Homo sapiens: one gene and its partners. The protein of the gene in region 2 interacts with the protein of the main gene of each other region in a pairwise test. Each region holds a gene or a part of one and is shown on either strand. Other genes may lie near its edges. The genes, in order: GDAP1, ABHD16A, STMN4, SLC7A8, VMA21, SLC10A1 and TMEM237.

The links.
Region 1: the proteins of ABHD16A (region 2) and GDAP1 interact in binary tests that used the Homo sapiens proteins (3 or more experiments, as listed by UniProt).
Region 3: the proteins of ABHD16A (region 2) and STMN4 interact in binary tests that used the Homo sapiens proteins (3 or more experiments, as listed by UniProt).
Region 4: the proteins of ABHD16A (region 2) and SLC7A8 interact in binary tests that used the Homo sapiens proteins (3 or more experiments, as listed by UniProt).
Region 5: the proteins of ABHD16A (region 2) and VMA21 interact in binary tests that used the Homo sapiens proteins (3 or more experiments, as listed by UniProt).
Region 6: the proteins of ABHD16A (region 2) and SLC10A1 interact in binary tests that used the Homo sapiens proteins (3 or more experiments, as listed by UniProt).
Region 7: the proteins of ABHD16A (region 2) and TMEM237 interact in binary tests that used the Homo sapiens proteins (3 or more experiments, as listed by UniProt).

Annotation. Positions count from the first base shown.
Region 1 is NC_000008.11:74,356,903-74,360,402, reverse strand, and holds part of GDAP1 (ganglioside-induced differentiation-associated protein 1), read right to left. Parts: intron 267-3,500; coding exon 93-266; intron 1-92. UniProt on the Homo sapiens protein: Regulates the mitochondrial network by promoting mitochondrial fission.
Region 2 is NC_000006.12:31,696,825-31,700,324, forward strand, and holds part of ABHD16A (phosphatidylserine lipase ABHD16A), read right to left. Parts: intron 210-3,500; coding exon 124-209; intron 1-123. UniProt on the Homo sapiens protein: Phosphatidylserine (PS) lipase that mediates the hydrolysis of phosphatidylserine to generate lysophosphatidylserine (LPS). LPS constitutes a class of signaling lipids that regulates immunological and neurological processes.
Region 3 is NC_000008.11:27,248,405-27,251,904, forward strand, and holds part of STMN4 (stathmin-4), read right to left. Parts: intron 1-3,500. UniProt on the Homo sapiens protein: Exhibits microtubule-destabilizing activity.
Region 4 is NC_000014.9:23,128,228-23,131,660, forward strand, and holds part of SLC7A8 (large neutral amino acids transporter small subunit 2), read right to left. Parts: intron 3,331-3,433; coding exon 3,234-3,330; intron 1,573-3,233; coding exon 1,423-1,572; intron 138-1,422; exon of another isoform or gene 1-137. UniProt on the Homo sapiens protein: Associates with SLC3A2 to form a functional heterodimeric complex that translocates small and large neutral amino acids with broad specificity and a stoichiometry of 1:1.
Region 5 is NC_000023.11:151,407,206-151,409,864, forward strand, and holds the end of VMA21 (vacuolar ATPase assembly integral membrane protein VMA21), read left to right. Parts: 3' UTR 1-2,159; downstream 2,160-2,659. UniProt on the Homo sapiens protein: Required for the assembly of the V0 complex of the vacuolar ATPase (V-ATPase) in the endoplasmic reticulum.
Region 6 is NC_000014.9:69,787,242-69,790,741, reverse strand, and holds part of SLC10A1 (hepatic sodium/bile acid cotransporter), read left to right. Parts: intron 1-3,500. UniProt on the Homo sapiens protein: As a major transporter of conjugated bile salts from plasma into the hepatocyte, it plays a key role in the enterohepatic circulation of bile salts necessary for the solubilization and absorption of dietary fat and fat-soluble vitamins.
Region 7 is NC_000002.12:201,630,004-201,633,503, reverse strand, and holds part of TMEM237 (transmembrane protein 237), read left to right. Parts: intron 1-72; coding exon 73-193; intron 194-1,295; coding exon 1,296-1,453; intron 1,454-3,500. UniProt on the Homo sapiens protein: Component of the transition zone in primary cilia. Required for ciliogenesis.

The DNA of each region.
Region 1 (3,500 bases), on a different chromosome or scaffold from region 2:
CTTCTTTTAGTGACCATGAGACATGCTAGGTCTCAAAATGAATTAAAAGAAAGTGTCAGACAGAATTCCAGGTCTTTAAAATGTTTACATACTACGAATCCTTGTAGTTGCATAAGCCGGGATCATGGAGTCCACAGTTAACTCAGGATGTAAAATGCAGCCATGTGTATAGGCATCCATTGGCAAGGAGTCAAGCAGCTCTCGGTAATGTTGTACCCGTGGGTAATACATGCTTTCTTTATCAGGCATTAACCTGGGTGTTCTTTCTAAAATACACACACACAAATATTGAAGAAAAAGTTACACATGAGTTGTTACACTCAAAAGCAAAACAAAAACACTATCCACTCATCATTAACATTTTCAACATATCTGTATATTCAAAAAACACTGTCTCCTCACCTCAGACATTCATTCAAAGTTTGAAATGGCCTGATGCACCAGACAAGATCCCAAACCATAATCACATTGGTATTCTCTCATTTCTTCACCTTGCAAACTGCACTCAGCCCTCAAGGCCCAGTTATTTATGCCATTTATTCCATGAAGCATTCCCTAACCTCCTACAACTGCCAACATCTGACTGGCTCACATGTGCCTTCTTCTATACATCCATAACACATTACACACACTCTGTTACAGCCCTTATCACACTGTAATTCATTGCATCTTTTTTCCCCATGACTGTCTTCAGGGAAAGGAACCTGCAATCCAGAGTCTAGCACAGTTCTCCACACACTTGAGGCCCTCAATAAAGTTTGGTTAATTGAATGAGGGCTCATTATGGAAAGATAATCAGGGGCTACTCTTTTCTAGGTGCCAACCAACATCAAGAGTGACCCTACTGACACATGTGAATGTGAATGACAATCTATATGGAACAGGAAAGGCCTTTGCTCAAATATCGCAGGTGCACTTTCCCCAGGAATTTCTAACAATTATCTCTGGAAAGTGGGTTCTACATACATCCTTATTTGCTAGTTAAAATCCAAACTGTAGAGTCCTTGAGGGCAGGGACCATGTACTGCTCTCTGTTAAATCCCCAGTGCCTAGTATAATGTTTGACATGTAGTAGGTGTTTAATAAATTACAATGAATACATTCCAAAATTTCCAATTATTATATAGATTACTTGAGCTGGAGAAGTGCTGCAGGAGTTAACATGTACACTCAGATACAAGGGCTGAAAATTTCTCCCAAGATCCCACAGCTAATTAGAGGCAGAGCTAGAACTAAAGTCATCTGATTCCTAATGTAATGTTCTCTTTGATTATACCATCATAACATTTTCAAAGGATTTTCATTTCATAGACTATCGAAAAAGAATAAAAGTGAAGGATGCAACCCAAAGGTCAGGGCTATGTCCCTTCAGAATCTCTTCCTATCTCTGGCTGTCAAACTGTCCCTAAAAAATGTCAGGTCTAATAACTATCACAATTTCAAAATATTAAGATATCTGCAATAACTTAACCATGAACATATCTGTGAGTTCTATTGGTTATCAAAGCCAGAAGCACTCCTGATATTGCCATGGATTGTGCCTACATTGCTAATGGAAGGAAATAATTCCTTTAAATAGAGATACAATTATTCCCTATCCAAGATCTCAAATCTCCTGAATTCTATTCATAAACCCCTAAGCGCAACAGTTCTCACACTATGGTCTGAGGATCCCTGGGTTTTCCTAAAACATGTTTGGGGGATCTACAAAGATATTTTTATAGAAATACTAAGACGTTAATTACTTTTTCACTCTTATTCTCTCTCAAGTGTACAGTAGAAGTTTCCAGAGGCTACAGGAAACATGACTCTATCACTCTGACAGCTAGTGGGATTGTGCTTAACCAGGCTAATATTTTAAGTTTTCTCAGTTTTGCTTTCTAAATGGTAAATATTGATAGCTATGATCCACATAAACAAATGCTCTCTGGTATCCTCAAAGACAAAGGGGTATAGAGACCAAAAAGTTTAAGAACTAATGCTTTAGGGGTCCAAGAACCTCAGGCTAATAACCCTAAATAGTACATTTTCAAATGCTTCCCAAAAGGTCCAAGTAATGGCTAGTGGCTCTGGCTGCTTTCTGGTACTGGGCCCTGGGGCTTCTCTCCAGAAGAGCATACCATTTCCTTCCTAGGAAAGTGAATGAGAGCAGGAAAAACAATGTCTAATTGCTTTCTGGGGAAGATCCATCAGGCCAAGCCCAAATTCTTCAAGGAGGACAAATGTTTAAATCCATGAAAATAATTTTCTTCTACTCAGTGTGCCGTTACTGTCTAACCATTTCCTGAAGCACTCTGTCAGAGCATGAGATACCCACTGAACCCAAGTTATCTCCCCATCTCTCTTTCTTTGTGCGCATCAAGCATGCCCTCTCCAGTATCACAGGGGCACTGCGCTGCCATCCTCACACTGAAGCACAACAGTATCTGCTGCTTCTGATAAAAGAGTTTTTCAAAGGAAAACTGGGAATTTCCTTTGAATTATAGAGGAGATCTTCCCTCTCAATCCCATCCTATTTTATTTTCCAGTTCTTCCGTAGAGTACCTTTATCAAAATACCAAAAGCAAGAATTTTTTTCTCAGTAATGTACCTCAATCAGGAGTGGGAAAGCAACATAAGGCATAGCGGGGCAGGACAGAGAATTAGGGAGTTTTAAGAAGCAGGCAATGAGAGGAGGTCCCAGCATTGGGGAGTGGGATTGCAACAGTGGAAATGAGGCTTGGTATTAAGCTAGAAGAACAAATAAGTTGGCACAAGATCCGACTTGCCGGAAGAACTGAGTAGGGGAAAAGTTTTATATTACACATAAATTTAGGCAGCAAATTATAAACCAGCAGATAGACATAAAGCAGAAAGATTTGATAAACAGCAGAGGAAACCAAAAGAAGCAAAAAATAAAATCAGAAAGAAACAATAAAAGCATTCTGCAGCCATGTAATGGAGACAAATGGGCCTCTACATTCTCAAGTCCCTGTAATGCTGAGTAAAATAACAATGGCTCTGAGCCATTTTTTTAAATTACATTTGGTTTTCCCAAGAGTAAAACATAAAAAGAAATTAGGGGCTTAAAGGCATAAGTTTTCATTATTTTACAAAATTCACTACTCTGGTTACCCATCTTTCCTAGTAAAGGCAGATAAAGGAGGCATTATTATGCCTTGTTTTCAAGAAAGACTCCCCTAGGTCTACTTGTACAACTTTCAAGTCTCCCTTACTACTAGCTCAATGGAAACAGATTAGATTTCATTCCTCACTCTAGCCCTTTGCTGTTTATTTTACTTAGACTGTATAGTGATTGCATCAGTATATAATATGCATAATACAGCTGAATAATATTGTACCCTTCAACTAGTCACACACTAGGCTATTTTTAAAAAATTCAATAATAGGCTGGGCACGGTGGCTCATGCCTGTAATCCCAGCACTTTGGGAGGCCAAGGCAGGCAGATCACGAGGTCAGGAGATCGAGAGACCATCCCGGCCAACATGGTGAAACCCCG
Region 2 (3,500 bases):
CCAGTGTGGTGGGTGGTAAAACACACCTCCTCTTCCTGCAGAAGCCAGTGTCTGGTGCTCTGAGGGACAACTGAGAAAGCTGCTATTGGGTGCCTGTGTGGCACTTTTCCTAGGGCCTCTCACCTTGTTTTCTGAAGACTGGTTCCGATGTGTTGCTTCCAAGATGGTGATGAACTGCCGGTACTGGGGGTTGGTCCAGCGGCCAATGCCTGGTAGAAAAAGGACAGGAAACAGTGCTAGGAAAACTGGGAAGCAGAAAGCCTAGGTTTTAGGAAAAGAATTGGAGATGGGCTAGAAGAAGGCCCTGTAAGAAAAAGTGAAAGAAAAAGGAACTGAGGGCATAGGATGCGGAGAAATAGATGTGAGCCAACCCCCTTCCTCCAAATCCAGCAACTGGCTACAGGACGCTTCTTCTCCCTAGCTTCTGCAGTTTGTGTCTTTATAGACAATCCTTAACCTACCATCTTCCAGAATGTTCCTCTTCCTCAGTCTTTAAACACTGTCATATAACCTATTAAATGACACTATTAAACACTATCATATAATACTATTCTCCCTTGCGAATATCAAATTTCTCTATTTTTCACTGCCATTCTTCTCCAATGTTTGCTTTCTGCCTCTTTTCTGTATATTCTAGCCCCTTGCCATCTGGCTTCAGAGTCTCCGACTCCTGCCCATAATTACTTCCTCACTGAATTCCTGACTCTTCTATCCTCATTCTCTTCAACTGTACTACTCAGCATTCTCCCTGTCCCTCAAGATTCTTCCTGCCTCTGCTTCCTGGGCCCATCCTTGACTCCTTCCAGTTCCTGAACAGTTCCTCTCCTGCCTCCTTTCTGCTTTCCTTTCTGAAGCAGAAGCAACTCTCAGTGCTGACTCTCTCTCCTCTCTCTTTTCACTTACACAGTCAGTGATTGCATCCACTCTCCTTTCACTGCTGAGCCACCTCAAACCCTAACTTCTCTCCTCACTGACTTGGCAGGTGTCGTGTGTCAGACAGGCACCGTACTACACACGGGAGACTCAGCAGGAAATGAGATACACAGCTCCTGGCTCTCAGAGAGCTGGCATTCTGGTTGGGGTTAGGTACAGCCAGGAGAAGACAATAAACAACATTTCAGAGAGGGATAAGTGCTACAGAGAAAATACAACAAGAATGAACCAGAACTTTATGTGTCATCAATGGTATTCCCCCAAAACGATATGATGAGAGAATGATGTGTGCTGCAGAATGATTTGTACAACATTTATGCCAAAAATGTAAAATGTGCAAAATAATACATACTGCTTATAGATACCATATTTCATAGATTCTAAAATGTATATTTTTTAACCCTTGAAAACTCTGAAATTAGAATTCATTTTACAATTGATGGCAGCTTAGACTTGAGGAACTGAGGTATATGTTTCATAAAAGTATGTGCCAGAAAAAAAAAAAACCCACACCAAATGACAATTATTACTTCTGAGGAAAGAGGAAGATGGGACTGAAAGGATTCCAATGGGAACTCCAACCCTAACTGTGGTGCTTTAGTATTTTGTTGACAGAAAGCATTTAAAGCAAATATCACAAAACTATATATAAAAAAAAAATCACAAAACTATACATCAAAAAATTTAAAAAGGCTTTTATATTTTGTTCTCTGGACTTTTCTGTATTTTTTCTTTTTTCTTTTTTTTGAGACAGTTTTGCTCTTGTTGCCCAGGCGGGAGTGCAATGATGTGCTCTCGGCTCACTGCAACCTCCGCCTCCCGGGTTCAAGTGATTCTCCTGCCACAGCCTCCCAAATAGCTGGGATTACAAGCGCCCGCCACCATGCACAGCTAATTTTTTCTGTATTTTTTCTAAATTAAAAATAAATAAAATAAAAAACTAAGACAAAACTGAGCAGTGGGAGCTACTTTTAGACAGGGTGGTCAGGGAAGGCCTCTCTGAGGAGAGAGCCCAGCCCTGCAGAGATCAGGGGGCAGAACACCTCAGGCAGAAGGTCCTGGACCCAACTGCGACCATCCAGCCCTGACCCCACCACCCCCATGTTGAAGCATCGCCCATCACCTGGTTGTCATCTTATGTACCCACTAGGGGTAGGTGATCTGTCCTCTTTATTTTTTTAAATTGCGAGATACAACATATGTACATAAAACATATATTCAGTTTAAAAAATACAAAGCAAACATTCATGTGACTATCACCTAGGTCAACAAAGAGAACACAGCCACCTCTCAGCAGGGCTCTCCCCCACTCTGTTCTCCCCCACCCCAGGTAATCACTCTCCTAACTTTTGAGAAAACCATGCCCTTGCTGGGCGCGGTGGCTCAAGCCTGTAATCTCAGCACTTTGGGAGGCCGAGGCGGGTGGATCACGAGGTCAGGAGATTGAGACCATCCTGGCTAACACGGTGAAACCCCATCTCTACTAAAAAATACAAAAAAACCTAGCCGGGTGTGGTGGTGGGCGCCTGTAGTCCCAGCTACTCGGGAGGCTGAAGCAGGAGAATGGCGTGAACCCGGGAGGCGGAGCTTGCAGTGAGCCGAGATCGCGCCACTGCACTCCAGCCTGGGGGACAGAGCGAGACTCCGTCTCAAAAAAAAAAAAAAAAAAAAAGAAAACCATGCCCTTGTTGTCTTCGGTGTTCTACCTCAAACATGCACATCCCTTTTGAATTTTATATAAATGAAAACATACTGCATACATTATTTTGTGGTTAGCTTCTTCTATTTAACACAACATTTGAGAAATTCATCTGCATTGCTTTTGTTTATCTGGAGACAGAGTCTCGCTCTGTCACCCAGACTGGAGTGCAGTGGTGCTATCTTGGCTCACTGCAACCTCTGCCTCCCAGGTTCAAGCAGTTCTCATGCCTTAGCCTCCCAAGCAGTTAAGACTATAGGCATGTGCCACCATGCCCAGTTAATTTTTTGTATTTTATTTTTTCTGAGATGGAGCCTTGCTCTGTTGCCCAGGATGCAGTACAGTAGCGCAATCTTGGCTCACTGCAACCTCTGCCTCTTGGATTCAAGCAATTCTACTGCCTCAGCCTCCCGAATAGCTGGGATTACAGGTGCTCACCACCATACCTGGCTAATTTTTTTTTGTATGTTTAGTAGAGACGGGGTTTCACCATGTTGGACAGACTGGTCTTGAACTCCTGACCTCTGGTGATCTGCCTGCTTCAGCCTACCAAACTGCTAGGATTACAGGCATGAGCCACTGCACCTGGCTTCATCTGCGTTGTTGAGCGTAGCTACAGTTTGTTCATTTGCATTGCTATATAGTGTTCTCTTGCATGGCTATTGCATGGAACTTTTTTTTTTTTTTGAGACGGAGTCTTGCTCTGTTGCCCAGGATGGAGTGCAGTAGCGCAATCTCGTCTCACTGCAACCTTTGCCTCCCAGGTTCAAGCTATTCTCCTGCCTCAGCCTCCTAAGTAGCTGGGATTACAGGCACGTGCCACCATGCCCAGCTAATTTTTGTATTTTTGGTAGAGACGGGGTTTTAC
Region 3 (3,500 bases), on a different chromosome or scaffold from region 2:
TGGGTTTACTCAGGAACACAGGAGGCCCACTGGGCTGCATGCAGGGTGCAGTGGGACAGAATGCTAGAATAGGAACTGGAAAATTGCAGAGACCTCTGGACCAGTGAAGGACTTTGTGCTTTATCTCCCACCCAGTAGGAAGCCACTGACATCTTTTGAATGAGGGGAGAAGAGAACAGTGATGCTGATAATAATAGCAATAATAACAACTACCATTCTTGGGCAGGAAAAGCACGGCTGTTATCTCATTTTTCTATTAGGTTCTTTGAGAATGAGGACATTGAATCTCAGCAGTTAAGTAAGTTATACCGTCGTCACACAGGTAGGTAGGGGCAGAGCTGGGATTTGAGTCCTCATGTGTTTCATTGGAAAGCCTCTCTGTCTTTAGGTTCTGCTGCGAGTGTAAAAAGATTCATCTGGCAACATTCGTTTGGGGAAAAATTAGGAGGGATAGGCTGGAAGCCAAATAGCAGTCTGGGTACAAAGTGTGGGTTGGACCTGCTGGATTGAGTTCCACTCTGAAGTTTTCACATCTCACCCAGCACTATTTTTCCATTTACAAACTGATCCATACATTTCCCCCAGCACCAGCATCTAAGAGTCTGTACAGAAAAGCAAGGAACCAGAGCTTTTTGTTGATGGCTTGAACCATTAGCATAATTGTTAAGAAATAAATTAGTGGGTGATAACCCCCCCCAAGCACAGAGCCAGCCGTAAGGAAACACAGAATGAGTAAGTTTTGATTGGAGGCAGACGTGGCTGAGAGTGAAGTTGTAGGCTGTTGACTGAGGAGGGATCTCACGGTGGGACAGTGGGGAGAAAAAGGTGGTTAAAGTGAAGAGATCAGAGCCCTCGATTTCACCCAGAACATTTGAATGTCAGAGATGGAGAGAACAGGCAATCACAAGCCCATGGTTCTCGACTCAGTGCAGTCTCACTCCCGGGAACTACATGGGACTTTTCAATGGTCATGAAACTGAGGATGCTACAGGCATTTAGTGGGCAGAGGCTGGCGAGTCTAAATGTCTTGCATTGTATACATCAGTCCCACACGATAAACAACTGTCCCTTCCAAAATGCCAATAGCCTCCTACTTGGGGACCAAAGATTCTGAGGTCACGCAGAGAACTCCTGGCAGAGATTGGATGGATTCCAGTGTCAATGCCCTTCTCCTTTATACTTGCTCCTTCTCTGTCCCCAAACACCATCCTGGATGAGAGGGGACAGCCCACATGGTCACCAGAGCAGCTCTGAATGAGAAGATGGATACACAGAAGGGAGACCCCAGCAGGGCACTTTCATGCAACCCACACTTCCAGGCTTTCCGTAATTCAGCTGATGTCCAGGGGGCAAACAGAAAAGCACCAAGTTCTCAGATGACACGTGGCCACCTACTGGGTGTATGCCTGACCTCTTAGTGCCTCTGACTGCCCATACGACAGAATGAACAAGCATTTTATTGGTCACTGTAAGAAATGCCCCAAGAATGCTTGCAGGATGTGTCAAATTCCATCTGGACTATTTTTGAGGGATGAGCAGATAATGCATGTCCCAGTGGCTTGAACAGAGTTGTACCTGGCAAGGGTTTCGGAAGACAAATCTAGAAACTCTGGCCAAGAATCAGGATGAATACCTCATGGTTGTGGGGGCAATGAATTCTGCCTGAGGTCCTCTAACCACAAGCAGTACAGGAAGGTGGTTCTTTAAGTCTGTGCCCTATTGCCAATCTTCTTCAAAATCCAGTTGAGGTCATATATTTACCCAAAATTAGCTGCATAAGCTATCTAAATGCCACATTTATTTGCTTTGGGATGAATCATGTCAGCTCAGAACAGTGGCCCTGGTTATTTCATGCTGATCAAAAGGCTCTGATTGGCAGCCATGTGTCTTCTTTGGGTTTAAAATCAAAAGGAGATAAATTATTTTTTCATAAATGTGGTTTTCATTCTTTCTACAATATTTACTGAGTATTTAATTATGTGCCAAGCCCTCTGCTAGATCCTAAAATAACCACAGGAGTTTTTGTTGGTGGAAAAGTAAAACAGGTCCCTGGATGGGTATCTAGAGCCATTGGAGCCTTTGGAGGCTCTGCAGATGCTCTGCGGGCCTCAGCATGGTCTTCCGCGATAATGTGGACCATGCCATAAAGGGAGAAGGAGTGGGAATTAGAGTGCAGACCAAGAAGGAACCAGCGAGACCTACAGAGGGAAACTGGGCAAAACAGAACAGTGTGTGATTCACTGGGTCTGGGGAAACTGGCATTGTTTAATCACCTCTTAGGCTCTTGCTTCCAACAGCATCTAGAGGAAGAGATGATGGGGACCTGGACAAGGGCAACTCCCAGAGGGTACCCAACAGGCTTAGGCTTCTAGGAAATAAGCACCTATGACAAAAGCAGAACTCTGAAGGCCTGAATCTGAGGAGTCCTTCTTAGCACTAACAGCTATGTTAAGAGGCAAGTCAGAGAAGGAAAATTAAACTGGAAAAGTGACAGCCCCAAATAATCCACAATGATGGGATTTTCTGGGCAATTTTTATTTCCAATTTAATATATGCAGAAGCGGCTGAGTGCGATGGCTCATGCCTGTAATCCCAACACTTTGGGAGGCTGAGGCAGGCAAATCATGAGGTCAGGAGTTCGAGACCAGCCTGGCCAACATGGTGAAACCCCATCTCTACTAAAAATACAAAAATTAGCCCAGCGTGGTGGTGCATGCCTGTAGTCTCAGTCCCAGCTACTCGGGAGGCTGTGGCAGGAGAATCACTTGAACACAGGAAGTGGAGGTTGCAGTGAGCTGAGATCATGCCACTGCACTTCAGCCTGGGTGAAAGAGTGAGACTTCATCTCAAAAAATAAATATATATATATACACGTATATACGTATATATATATACATATAATATTATATATATACGTATATACGTGTATATATATTATATATATACATATGCAGAAGAATCAGCATCACAGAAGTCAAGTTCAGGGGCATGGACTTCCATTCTGGGCTGCTGGAGAGTGTGCAAGGCATGTGACCCAGGAGTTCTGTGAGGTCCTGGGTTAAAAGCACATGAAGCCATCAATATACAGGGCAAGCCCTTTTAATCTTACTCCCAATAACAACAATGTGATTGAATATTGCTTTATGATTACATCTATAGGCATATGTGCATCTTATAAATAATGCTTTAATTACAAACATATTCACATTATATTTTGGAAATTCTATGTAACAGAAAAAAAGAAAATAAATCCTTGTAGTCTTGCTACTTTATGCTATTGGCATTTTCTTCTAGGTTTTTTCCCCTCTGTCTACTATTTTTACATAAGCCAGAAACCAGGGCTTTTACAAAAGCAAGGGAATCTACATTTAAAAAAAATTTCTTTTTTGCCATCTTTTTTTTTCTTTTTTTTTTTATTATTATACTTTAAGTTTTAGGGTACGTGTGCACATTGTGCAGGTTAGTTACATATGTATACATGTGCCATGCTGGTGTGCTGC
Region 4 (3,433 bases), on a different chromosome or scaffold from region 2:
GTGTAGGCCACGTGGCCCCCAGGACTAGGGACTGGGGCATTCTCTCTCTTCTTCACCCACAGAGACACATCCTCAAGGGCAAAGGCTGGGCTTCCCTCGGCTCTGTGGTCCCACACTCACCCCTGGTAGGGCAGGGGCTATATAAACAAATGTTGATGAACATGGTCGGTCAGACAGGAAGAGGATGGGGAGGAGTTAGGGAGGAAACGATCCTCCTTGCCCATGTCCTCGCTCTTGGGTGTGGTTAGACAAGGCCTCATCATGCATGCCATGTGCCCGTGGCAGCCAGAGAAGCCCACAGGGATGGAGAAGCTTGCTGGCACATGGGTGTGTCTGCTGAGGTCCTAGGGTGGAGGGGAGGTGTGGCAATGCACAAGGTGCAGGCAGGAGACGATTCGAGTCACTCAGGCTCCCTGGTCCTTGCCCACTTCTGTGCAGGGCCCTTATGTGGGCACAATATGGCAAATGTCAGCTCCTTATGGGCCACATGTGGGGAGTTCCTGAGAGTATCCTCTTCAGGGCTCCAGGGGCAGTCCTGATTCGGCTGCCTTTCTCTTCCTTGTCTTCCTCGCTCAGAAGGGATGTGTGTGGTGGGGACATGGGGTTATTCTACCTCCTCTTCCCTCTAGCAGATTTTCTAAGTGTGAGAGTAGAAAATGGCGGTGGAAATGCCAGTGAGGAACTGAGAGATTTGGAGAGCCTTTGATTTTTCAGCTGGAAGGATCTTCTAGAAGCATCTAGTCACTGTTTCTAGAATAGGATTGTTCAAATAGCTCTGGAGTACACTCTATTCTTCTAATTCGTAGGAGAACTCATAATGCTCTAGCATGTCCTGTTCTGAGCAATCCCTTTAATTCCTATCACAGAGTTATATCTTGTAGCAATATTAGGTTCACTGAGCACCCTATATGTGTAGGACTGTGGGAGTTTATAAAGGGAGGATCATGGGAGGTTGCAGTAGACTGGAAGACTTCAAGAAAGAGGAGGTACTTGAGGCGCATTTGGAAAATGGTTAAAATGTAGATGGGCAGATGGGAGGAGGAAGTCATTCTGGGATGGAGACATAGCACATAGTGAACCCAGCTATCTGGAGGGACAAGGAGGAAGTGTTGGGGAGATAAGAGAACCTTGAAAAGTCAGCTGGAGTTTAAGGCTTAGACTGGTAGGAAACAAAGGAATGTCATGATGAAAGTCACATTTGATCTGACTTATTCCCCAGCTGCAGTCTGCTCCGATCTCATCCCCAGTGGAGAATGGAAATAGTGGTCCCATTCACAAATGGCCCTTGCTTTCCAAAGGGTCTGCTACCATCAGAGATGATGACGTGTGGTCAGCAGCTAAGAACAGAGGTGATTTAAAAATCTGAACTGCAGCTAGAACCATAGAGGAAGGGGAGGGGACCCCAAAGGGAGTTTCTCTCACCTTGATGGGGCGGGGGATATCAGGCTTCTTCCAGCGAAGGACTATCTGTCCAGCAACCGTGACCCCATAGAAGAGGTAGTTGATGAAGCCCACATAGTTGATGAGTGTGTACATGTCGCTGGTGACCAGCATCAGCAGGGTGGAGATGCACTGGGAAAGTGGGAGGAGCTCATCAGTGATCCGAAAGATATTCAGAGACTGGTATTACAGATTAGGGGCTGTCCCCCAGCCTCCAGGCAGATGATGCCATCGTATAATGGATGTCTCGAAATGGAGACTTTAGAACCTCCCCTAGTAACCCAATATGTTACAACATCTTTATTGCTAGGAAATCCTTTCTTATTACAGGGGTGATGATCAAAATATTTAACCACTCGTATGGCACGGGCACTAGCCAATTAGAATGGATACTGGACATAAGCAGCTAGACTGGCCACACTGGTATTACCTGGCTCTGTGTCAGCCCCGGTCTCATTTGTATGCCTCTGTTGGTTATAGCTCAAGCTAAATTCATTTTTTTAAAATCCCTTAGGGAAGATTGTTAACAACAGATTAAGGCTGTATTCCTGCCCTCATCCTTTTCTCCTGGCTGAGTCATCTATTTTTCTTCCTTCCTTTTCTTTATTAATTTCAAAACTGGTTACATAGCACTTACTGTGTGCCAGGTCTCTATGTTTAGCATTTGACAAAGATTAACTCACTTAACCCTCATAACATCCCTATGAGGTTTTCTTGACAGAGTCTACTTTCCAACTTCAAAATCATCTCTGTGGCTCTCTTGGAACCATGCTCCTCCCCTCTGATAACTTGTGAAGGTCAACAAAAGGTTCTGTTCTCTTGTGAGATCCGATGGTTAAAATAATCGAGAAGATTTTAATGGTTCTTGCTACATCTGCCTTTTAGTCACACTACTGCACCAATAGCTCTAACTGGAAAAAACAAAACAAAACAAAACAAAAAAATGTGTGTGGCCCACTGGGAGTACTGTCTTCTCCAGCCACCTTCGACAACCAACCAGTCAAGGTGACCTTCATCCTGCATCTGAACATTCTGAAATTGTACAGCAATGCTGTAAAATGCTCTTGGCTCCCAAGAGCTCTGTTATTCTGATTGCTAACTGCTTCACCAGTGGACCAAAGTCATTTTTAGTGTTTTATTCAGGATCCAGAAGGAAAATAAAAATAACTCAAAAGACTCAATGGGGACAAGTCTTTGTTCCTTCCTATAGCTCTCTCAAAATGATTCTACTCTGGGGATATTTTACTCCCATCTCTTTCCTGTCCCAAGTTTCCTTTGCACAGTTTCCAGTTTATCAGTCTTCCTCTATTATTTTTCGTATTTGGTGTACTGTTAACACTAACTTCATTTCAATGATGTTTCCCAAGAGACTGGCAGGCTGCCCTGAAGCTTGATGGGGGAAGTGGGTGTTTGCAGGGACCAACCAGCCAGGAGCAGAGGCCAGTGCTGCAACCCTGTGGTAACAGGTGCGAGGAGAGCCAAGGGAGATATATTTTTTTTGAGGCTGTAGAATCCTGAGACAGTCAGTTCAGTCTGACCCAAAAGGATGGGAGAACGGAAATAAGTCAGCCTGAGAGCCTTAGGTATTTCAAGACTCAGGATCTTTCCTTGCTATATCTCTTGATATTAACAAAGATGATGGGTATCATTTGCCAGATCCTCTAAGATCCAGTGAGACCTAGCAGCAGACTGCAAGGGTAACAGGGGTGTGTGTGAAAAGCATGAACTCCCAGCTTAGACTAGGCACAAAGAGAGGGAGGTGTGTGGAGAGTTACAGCAGGAAGGGCCCTTACTGTGAAGAGCAGGGCTGGGATTGGGGTGCAGCGCTTCACGTGGATCATGGCCAACACACTGGGAAGGTGGCCCTCTCGGGCTCCAGCGAAGAACAGCCTGTCAGGGAGAAAAGCAGGTCAGCCTGGGATAACCCAGGGACCACCAAGCCCCAGCTCCTTCATCCTTGCCTACCTTCTGCCCACACAGGGGCATCCCCACT
Region 5 (2,659 bases), on a different chromosome or scaffold from region 2:
TTAAACCAGGGGCATATGCAAAGGCAGTTGTAATTTCCTCTTGGAAAAAGCGCCAAATGTTTGAAGGTTAAAATCAAATGCTAGGGTTGATATTTAGGCTTATAACAAAATAGGCTTGTTTTCAAAGCAGTTTTTTCCTAGAGTTTTAACTGTTAACTCACTAGTTTGCTGCTGTTTTTAACTATGTTAAATAACATATGGTATTTGGCAAATAGATTTATTTTTCAAAATGTCTCACTAGTTTCCTTTTACACAATGTATATACTTCAAGATGTATAGAAAGGAAAGCTACAGTTGAGCCCTTATACATGTTTTAAGGTAGAAATATGTTCCCTATTGTTTGAAAACTGATTGTAAGAATAACCTCAGTTAGGAGATATAACTTGAAGTGTCAGTCCAAACTACTGATTTAACCCTATTTACGGTAACACATTACCTTCCTCACCTCCTGTTTGGCCCTGGAGAATGTAGTCCTTTTTCTCATTTGTGTTGAGAAATGAAAAGTCTGCTGTAGAATGTATCTGATGTCATTAGTTCTTCAAATGGATACCATTGTACATATAACAGTAGAATTTGGTTTGGGGTTGTTAGTGAAAAAAAATTTAAACCTGCCATTAAAAATCCCCATGTTTCATGGAAATCTAACAGAAATACATTGTAATAATTAGAACATTTTGTTTTCTTTTTTCTTTTTTTTTTTTTCGAGACGGAGTTTTGCCCTTCTTGCCCAGGCTGGAGTGCAAGGGCGCAATCTCGGCTCGCTGCAACCTCCGCCTCCCGGGTTCAAGCAGTTCTCCTGCCTCAGCCCCCTGAGTACCTCAGATGACAGGTGCGTGCCACCACACCCGGCTAATTTTTGTATTTTTAGTAGAGACGGGGTTTCACCATGTTAGCCAGGCTAGTCTCGAACTCCTGACCTCAGGTGATCCACCCGCCTCCGCCTCCCAAAGTGCTGGGATTACAGGTATCAGCCACCGTGCCTGGCCTAATAATTGGAACATTTTCATCATGAAAATGTCATCAGCTTTGCCAAAAGAAACAACCAATTGACTTGTTTGGCGTTTGTTTTCCATTTTCATGTCAATTTTATGTATACAGTTAGAATACCCAAGGAGACCACTAAAATCAGTTAAACAAGTAGGGTATATACAAAGAAAGATGAAACCCGAAAGTACATAAAAAGGATTTAAATCCGATTTTAGATGTACCTAGTGTGTATTTCTTATCTCTAGACAAGTTCATGTTTATTGTTTAATTTATGCCCAAGTGAAGTTGTAAACTTATGGTTCAACTCTGACACAGAATTTGTCACTTGTCTGAGGTCAGTGGCAGGTTTCTCTGCTGTCAAGCACTCTGTGTCACCCACCAGATTAGTATAACTATTAATTCAGACTGTACTCCTATGTTTAAGATAATTTTTACAAGAGCTGGCTGAAGCAGCACATTAGTAACCTGACAAGATTTCTTTTTCCCTTTTCAGGGGGAAAGGGTCACCTTAAAAATAAATTATTTTCAGGGACTTTGGGAATCTAATGATAAATATTACACATAATCTATGAATAGCTTAATCCTTTATATATTCCTTAAAATAGGAATTCCTCGACATCACTCCTGGCCACACTTTCCTTGCCTGTGTTGTTGCTATGTGTATTTGAAAGTAATATCTGCATTCCTTTTAAGATGTTCTGTAAGTCATATTTGTCAGTTATACAGAGTAGTCTTCCTTTTCCCCACGTTCAGTGTAATCTCACTGAACAGTAATAATAGCAATAGCTAACAACATCTGCACAGCACCTTACAGTTTGCAAAGAACGTTCACACATTCTCATTTGAGTTTTGCATAGTGAACCTGTTACGAGATGTCTCTTGACGTCGATGCTAAAAGTGTTAGAATCTTTACATCACTAGAGTCATTGAATATGCTGTAGTATTGAATAGTGCCCTGACTAGGGGGAGGATTTGGATGTGCTGCATTTCAAGCCGTGTATAATCATCAAAATGGGGGGCTTGAGTTCTTTAGCTACTTGAATCCGATTTACTTCTGTTAAGTGATGCTTTTCTAACCGTTTTCTGGATGGATTTTGTATTCACTATATTGTAGCTTGTAATTTGTATAAATGTACCATCTGATGTCATTAAAAAAAGTGTTTGTAGTGCTACTTTGCTGTGTCCTGATTCAATTAATGTTTTATTAACCGCTGTGTTTTTAAAAATTTGTTTGCCTGCTTCTCATTTTATAACATGTAGAATATGTACAGAGCTCACTTTAAAAAATTTGTTCGTTGGCCTCTGTTTGTGCTATGTAGATTATATAGAGAGCTGTCAAGGATAAGTTTTTATGCAGTAAATGTCAACCAGAAATGCTCAAACTGATTGGGAGTGTGGGGGAGGGGTGTTGAGCTGTAAAGGGCTGGTTATACTTCGTCTGGGGTGGGCTTCAAATGCCCCTAAAGGAGAGTTGAGAAATGTGGAAATAGATAATTCCTGACGACGTCCACATGCCACCCCCTCATGACCAATGTCCTGTGTCCTCTGTCCTCTAATCACCCGTTGATTGCACTCCAGCTCCTTCCTGTGCTTCTGAGGACTCCAGCTAATTCTTACTAATAAATGTTAATATCCCCTTCCCAAACACATTTGAGACGTCTTAGTATTAACA
Region 6 (3,500 bases), on a different chromosome or scaffold from region 2:
TAATGACTATCTTTGCTTTATTCCTCTTGTTAAAGAAAATCCCTCTATTTACCATTAAGTTTAACGTTTAATATACTTTTTCTAATAGATTTCCTTTCAAGTTAAGGAATTTTCATTCCGTTGCTAGTGTACTAAATTTTTATTATGTAAGAACATTAAATTTTGTTGACTTTTCTATAGCTACAAAATTGTACCATTTCTTTAATAATATAGTAATATGTATTAATAGATTATCTAATGTTAAATCATTCTTACTCATCTTGTTCATTGTATTTTTTAAAACACTTATTTGCTAATATTTTATTATTTTTGTTTCTATGTTCATAAATAAGAGTGGTCCCCAATTTTCTTTTCTCGTAATATCATTCTCCAGCTTTCGTTCCAAGATCATATTAACTTTATACAATAAATTAGGGCATGTTTCCCCTTTTTATATTATCTGGACAGATTTGCATAATATTGCAACAATCTGCACTTTGCATGTTTAGTAGAACACTACCGTAAGACAGTATAAATCATGTAGGGTTCTAGAAGATAGGTTTTGAACTGCTTATTAAATGTCTTAAATGATTCTAAGTTGAATCAGGTTTTCGGCTTCATATTGACTTGGTTTTGTAGGTTATATTTCCCATGAAATTGTCCATTTAAGTTAAAAATGAAAGTATGAAAATGTCCTTAATGACTTTTTAAAATCTTCATTTTCTCTGTAGTTATGTTCCCTTTTTCACACTAACCTCATCAATTTGTGCCATCTCTCTTTTCCCTGGTCTGCCTTGCCAGAGGTGCCTATTTAATTGGCCTTTAAAAAAAAAAAGAAAAAAAAAAAACCCTATTTTTGGTTTTACTGATTCTAACAATTTACAAAACTTAAAAAATTTCTTCCTTTTCTTTTTATTGGGTTTTTCTCATTCTAACCTCTTAAGGTGCTTAACTCATTAATTTTTAATCTTCTTTTTCAATATAAATATGTTAGGCTATAAATTGCCCTTTAATAATTGCTTTATTTGCTCCCTGCATGGTTTTTAATTACTATTTATTGAGATATAATTCACATACCATAAAATCCATTCTTTAAATTGTACGATGCCTTGGTTTTTAGCATAATTCCAAGCCTGTGAACCTATCACCATTATCTAATTTCAGAACATTTTCAATACCCCAAAAAGGAACTCCATCCCATTTAGCAGGAGTCCCCATTTCTCTCTCCTGCTCCAACCCTTGACAACCACTAATCTTTCTGTCTCTATGGATTTCACATAAATGGAAGCATTCAATATGTGACCTTTTGTATCTATACTTCTTTCACTTAGCATATTTTCAAGGTTCATTCATGTGATAGCATGTCACAATACTTCATTTGTTTTTGTAATTGAATAATATCCCATTGTATGGATATAATACATTTTGCTCATCCATTCATTCAGCTGATGGACACATGGGTTGTTTCTACTTGTTCCCTAGTATGAATAATGTCTATGGAAGCTCACAGGCAAGTTTTTGTGTGAACATGCTTTCTGTTCCCTTGGGATATATACCTAAGAGTAGAATTGCTGGGTTATATGGTGACTCTGTGTTTAAATTTTCTAGAAACTGCCAAACTATTTTCCAAAGCACCATTTTACTTCCCACCACCAGTGTATGAGGATTCCTAATTTTCCATATACCCTCCAACACTTGTTATTGTCCAGCTTTTTAATTATAGCCATGCTAGTAGATATAAAGTGGTATCTCAAAGTGGTTTTGATTTGCATTTTCCTAATAAGTAATGATGTTGAGCATCTTTTCATGTGCTCATTAGCCATTTGTATATCTTCTTTGGGAAAATATCTCATTCAAATCCTTGGCCCATTTTTTACTTGTTTTTTATTATTGCATTATAAGAGTTCTTCATATATTGGCCGGGCGCGGTGGCTCACGCCTGTAATCCCAGCACTTTGGGAGGCCCAGGCGGGTGGATCACGAGGTCAGGAGATCGAGACTATCCTGGCTAACACGGTGAAACCCCATCTCTACTAAAAATACAAAAAAAATTAGCCGGGCGTGGTGGCAGGCGCCTGTAGTCCCAGCTACTCGGGAGGCTGAGACAGAAGAATAGCGTGAACCCAGGAGGCGGAGCTTGCAGTGAGCCGAGACTGCGCCACTGCACTCCAGCCTGGGCGACAGAGCAAGACTCCATCTCAAAAAAAAAAAAAAAGAGTTCTTCATATATATTCTGAATATTAGACCCTTATCAGATATATGACTTGCAAATATTTCCTCCCATTCTCTTGTTGGCTTTTCACTTTCTTGATGGTGTCCTTTGAATCACAAGTTTTTAATATTAATGAAGTCTGACTTGCCTTTTTCTTTGGCTGTTCGTGCTTTAGATGTCTAAGAAACCATTGCCTAATCCAAAGTCCCCTCTCCATGTTTTTTAAATATGTATTTTATTATTTTTATATTCTAAATACTGTTTCCACCATGATTTCATATTTGATGATATAATTAGAAAGTTCCCCTCCCCTCATCCCATGATCCTTTTATTGGTTGCTCAGTTTCAATGCTCCTCCCATCCCAGGTCTAATACCTCAATTCTGGTCCCTTCCTTGGGCATTAAAGCCTCCACAGTGCCAAGACTAACACCCCACTCCCCTCCAGAACCCCTCTATGAAGCTTCAGCTTGAGTTCCCCCACTACTTTGCATTTGTTTCTTGTCCGTGGGCACCTTTTTTTTTAGTGGAGTGGCGCTAACATAGCTCACTGTAACCTCAACCTTCTGGGCTCAAGCCATCCTCCTGCCTCAGCCTCCCAAGTAGCTGGGACTCCTGGTGCACACCACCACACCTGGCTAATTTTTGTGTGTGGTTTTTGGTTTGTTTGTTCATTTGTTTGTGTGTAGAGACAGGGGTCTTACTTTGTTGCCCAGGCTGGTCTCAAACTCCTGGCTTCAAGCAATCCTCCCTCCTCGGCCTCCCTAAATGCTGGAATTATAGGCATGAGCCACTATGCCACACTTAAATTGAGTGTTAATTTCTTACAAGCTCAAGTGTGTATTTAAGTGTTCACGGGGGTGGGGGAGTTCCTATTACCTAGTTCACAATTTTCTTTGAGGGACTCTTCTCACCTCTAACAGCTCTTATCCTTATGACATGCCTACCTATTGTTCTTGATGGCTACGCTCTGGAACCTTTGATATAGGCTGCTCTTCATGCATATTTAAGCCATATTCCATCTTTATAGAAATAATGAAAGAAGTGTAGATGGAGGGTAGGGCTGTGGGGAGGAGGAGGGACACACTGAGTGTGGTTTTCCTAAGATCTTGCCAAGCCCTCACCTCCCAACCATCTTCCCACTGGAATAAAAGTCAGAGCCATATATTGTTAATGTAAATGTCCATAAATCTAAGGAGATGCCCTATCAGCTTCCTTCTCAGTTGACCTTTCTGGAGGGCCTCTCCCTAGACAGGGTCCTGGGACTAACATATATAAGATTCCAAATGGAAAAGGAAATTGGACAAGTAG
Region 7 (3,500 bases), on a different chromosome or scaffold from region 2:
ATACAAGTCTTGTACATTACTTTTCTTTTTATGTTTTAGTTATTTGAAAAGTTAAATTTATTTTGTTTTCAGAATTGGAGACTTCCTCCACCCAAAAGAAGTCATCTAGTTCATCTTTATTACGAAATGAAAATGGTATTGATGCGGAGCCAGCTGAGGAGGCAGTTATTCAAAAACCTCGGAGGAAGACAAAGTAGGAATTTATTTATTCTTCTAACTATTCTCCAGGATTACCCTGATGCTTTGTTTGGAGCTCCGAAGCAGTAGCTTCTCATTAAGTCTTATTACATACTTGTATTTGTGTACCTCTAGGATAAGTATTATTACAAAAAATCAGTTAAACCAATCGAATGATAAATTTCAGAAGAGTAAACCACTGAGAAAATAAAAAAAATTAAGATTGTACTTAAATAAAAAAACTTAAGAGCCATCTCTAAAAAAGAAGAACACAAATAGAATATATAAGTAGCAAAATTAAACATTAAGGATATTTAAAAATTAAAGATAATGAAATAGGCTATTGTGATTTATTTTCTTATGTTAACAGAATTCAAATTATGATTATTTTAGGAATAAGTAAAACTGGGTTTTAGCATTAAGATAAAATGAGTAGTGTACTTTAAAGAAATAACACTGGAAGTCATATATATAGCACTATTATTTGTATTTGAAAATGAACCTACAAATAGTGATCAATGTCTGTGTTAGTCCGTTCTCACACTACTAATAAAGACATACCCGAGACTGGATAATTTATAAAGGAAAGAGGTTTAATTGACTCACAGTTCAGCATGACTTGGGGGTGCCTCAGGAAACTTACTATCATGGTGGAAGGTGAAGCAAACACACCCTTCTTCACAGGGCAGCAGGAAGGAGAAGAATTAGAGCTGAGTGAAGGGGGAAGCCCCTTACAAAACGATCAGATCTCCTGAGAACTCACTATCACCAGAACAGTCCCTTGACAGGTGGGGATTATTACAATTCAAGATGAGATTTTGGGTGGGGACATAGCCAAACCTTATCAGTATCTATACAGAATCATACAGTTTTAAATTTGGAAAGAAGCTTACAGATCTAGTTCAGTCACTTCAATTTTCAAATGAGAAAACTGAAGCCCTCAGAAATGTAAGTAACTTGCTGCACATAATAGTTAATAACCGATTTATTTGAGTAAAAACCACATTTCTTAACTCCAAGTCCAGGGCCCTTTCCATTATATTTATAGCTAGTTCCTTATGTAAGTCTGTAAAAAATTCAATAATCATCTATTTTTCATACATACGTCCTTATTACAGGAAAACCCAGCCAGCAGAATTACAGTATGCCAATGAGCTAGGAGTAGAAGATGAAGACATAATCACTGATGAGCAAACTACTGTGGAACAGCAGTCTGTATTCACTGCACCCACTGGCATTAGCCAGCCTGTAGGCAAAGTATTTGTGGAAAAAAGCCGTAAGTAGATGCCTTGTTTTAGAATATGAACTCTTTAAAAATTGTCCAAGGATATCCTTTATACTTCTGGAAATCTGAATTAAGGAATTAAGCAAAACTGTGTACAACAATTTATACACAAAACTGGTCATCATGCTATGATTCATGAGAGTGAAAAACTGGAAACAACCTAAATGTGAAATAGGAGAGGAATAATGTCAGTAAGTTGTGGTGTATCTATATAATAATGTTCTTCACCATTAAACATAATGTTTAGGGAGAATTTTTCATTTTATGGAAAGATTCTGATAAAAAATGAGCATATACACATGTGCACACACACACACACAGTTTGATCTATGCATAGGACAAAAGACTTGAAGGAAATAGGCTCAAATATTAATGCTGGTTGTTTCTGGATTTATGGGGTTATGGGCAATGTAAAGATCTTCCCCACCCCTGCCTGATTCTTTATTCTTTCTTGTACTTTACCAGTTTGCTGCAATTGGTAGTAGTTGTGGTGGGACAGATAATAATATAAATTCTACAATTGACAATAAGAGAAAATACATGATGATACTACCATATTAAATAAGAAATACAACATTATAGCTGTATATTCTTTTGCAAGATAGTTGTGACATTGTATAATGTATACTAGGTTTGCAGTGTATTTTAGCTCAGGCTGCTATAACAAAATACCACCGACTAAGTGGCTTAAACCACGGACATTTATTTCTCATAGTTCCTAAAGCTAGGAAGTGCAAGACAAGGTTCCAGCAGATTAGGTTACTGGAGAAGGCCCCTTCCTGGCTTGCCGACAGCTGCCACTGTGTCGTCATGTGGCAGAGAGAGCTCTGGTGTGTCTTCTTCTTCTTAAAAGGATTATAATCTCATCATGGGAGCTTTATCCTCATGACTTCATCGAAATCTAATTACCTCCCAGTGACCTCGCACTCACTGGGGGGTTAGGGCTTCAACATATGAATTTTTGGGGGACGCATTCCGTCTATAACACAGTGTTTAAGAAAAACCTACTCAAAGCATGATCATGACTATATACTACCATGGATATGTTAAGCATATGCTGCCTAAAGAACTCATCTGAAACATAAAGGTTAGTCCTTAAAATTTACAATTTAGATTTTGTGTACCTTGTTTTAGAACCCTACTTCAGAAGATCCCATTTAAGGGATCTTGCAGTTCTTGGCCAATAAGAAACCTGTGGTCTAGAGAGGCTGACTTACCCAGTGTCTCACAGTTTGGTTAGGGTGGAACTGGGACTTGAACTGTGGTTTTATGACTTCTAGTCACATGGTTTTATTCATCTACCACGTGGTCATTTAAATTACCGCAGTTCTTTTTCAAGCAGTATCACTTAATCCTCATTTTTATTCTTGCTTCACTTAGCATAGAAATTTCCCTGCTAGAGTAACTGGCCATAAAAGGTACCAGTGGTTCTATTGTCTGCCCAGAAGTTGTCTTTTCTTAGGGAAAATTGTCACACCCCTGTCTTTCATCCTCCAAAACACCTGCGAACTGGGTTTGGTGAGGATAATTGAAATGGAACCTTTCCTGTTTCCTGAGGTCTATTTGTGGATTACTAGATATACAAGAAGGAGCCTCTGAATCAACAGTAAAAAGGCTAAAGCCCTGCTCATACAATATTGCAGTGCTGACTTTTGAACTGATGTTCTTCACAGGAATGTTCTAAAGAGAAATTTATGAAGCAGCCTATTTCTTTCCTGTCATCCCAGAAAGCCATGCTACACATCCTGACATCTTTTCCTAAGAAATTTAAAGTAGTTTTCAAATATTGACTTACCTTGATAGTATAGGCATATAAACTTTAATACTTCTAAAGTCTCTAAATTAGAATTTTGTAGACTAGGTCATGTTAAAGATTTCTAGACTTTATTCTGAGTTGAAAGTTCATTTTTTTTTATTAAATATAATTGATTTCTGAAATTGTTACTTCACTTTGGATTGAGAAGAAAATACACTGACATCGCTTATTTTTCTTCAAGATGAAAAATTATGTTTAAGGAACCCCAAGAAAAGATCCTTC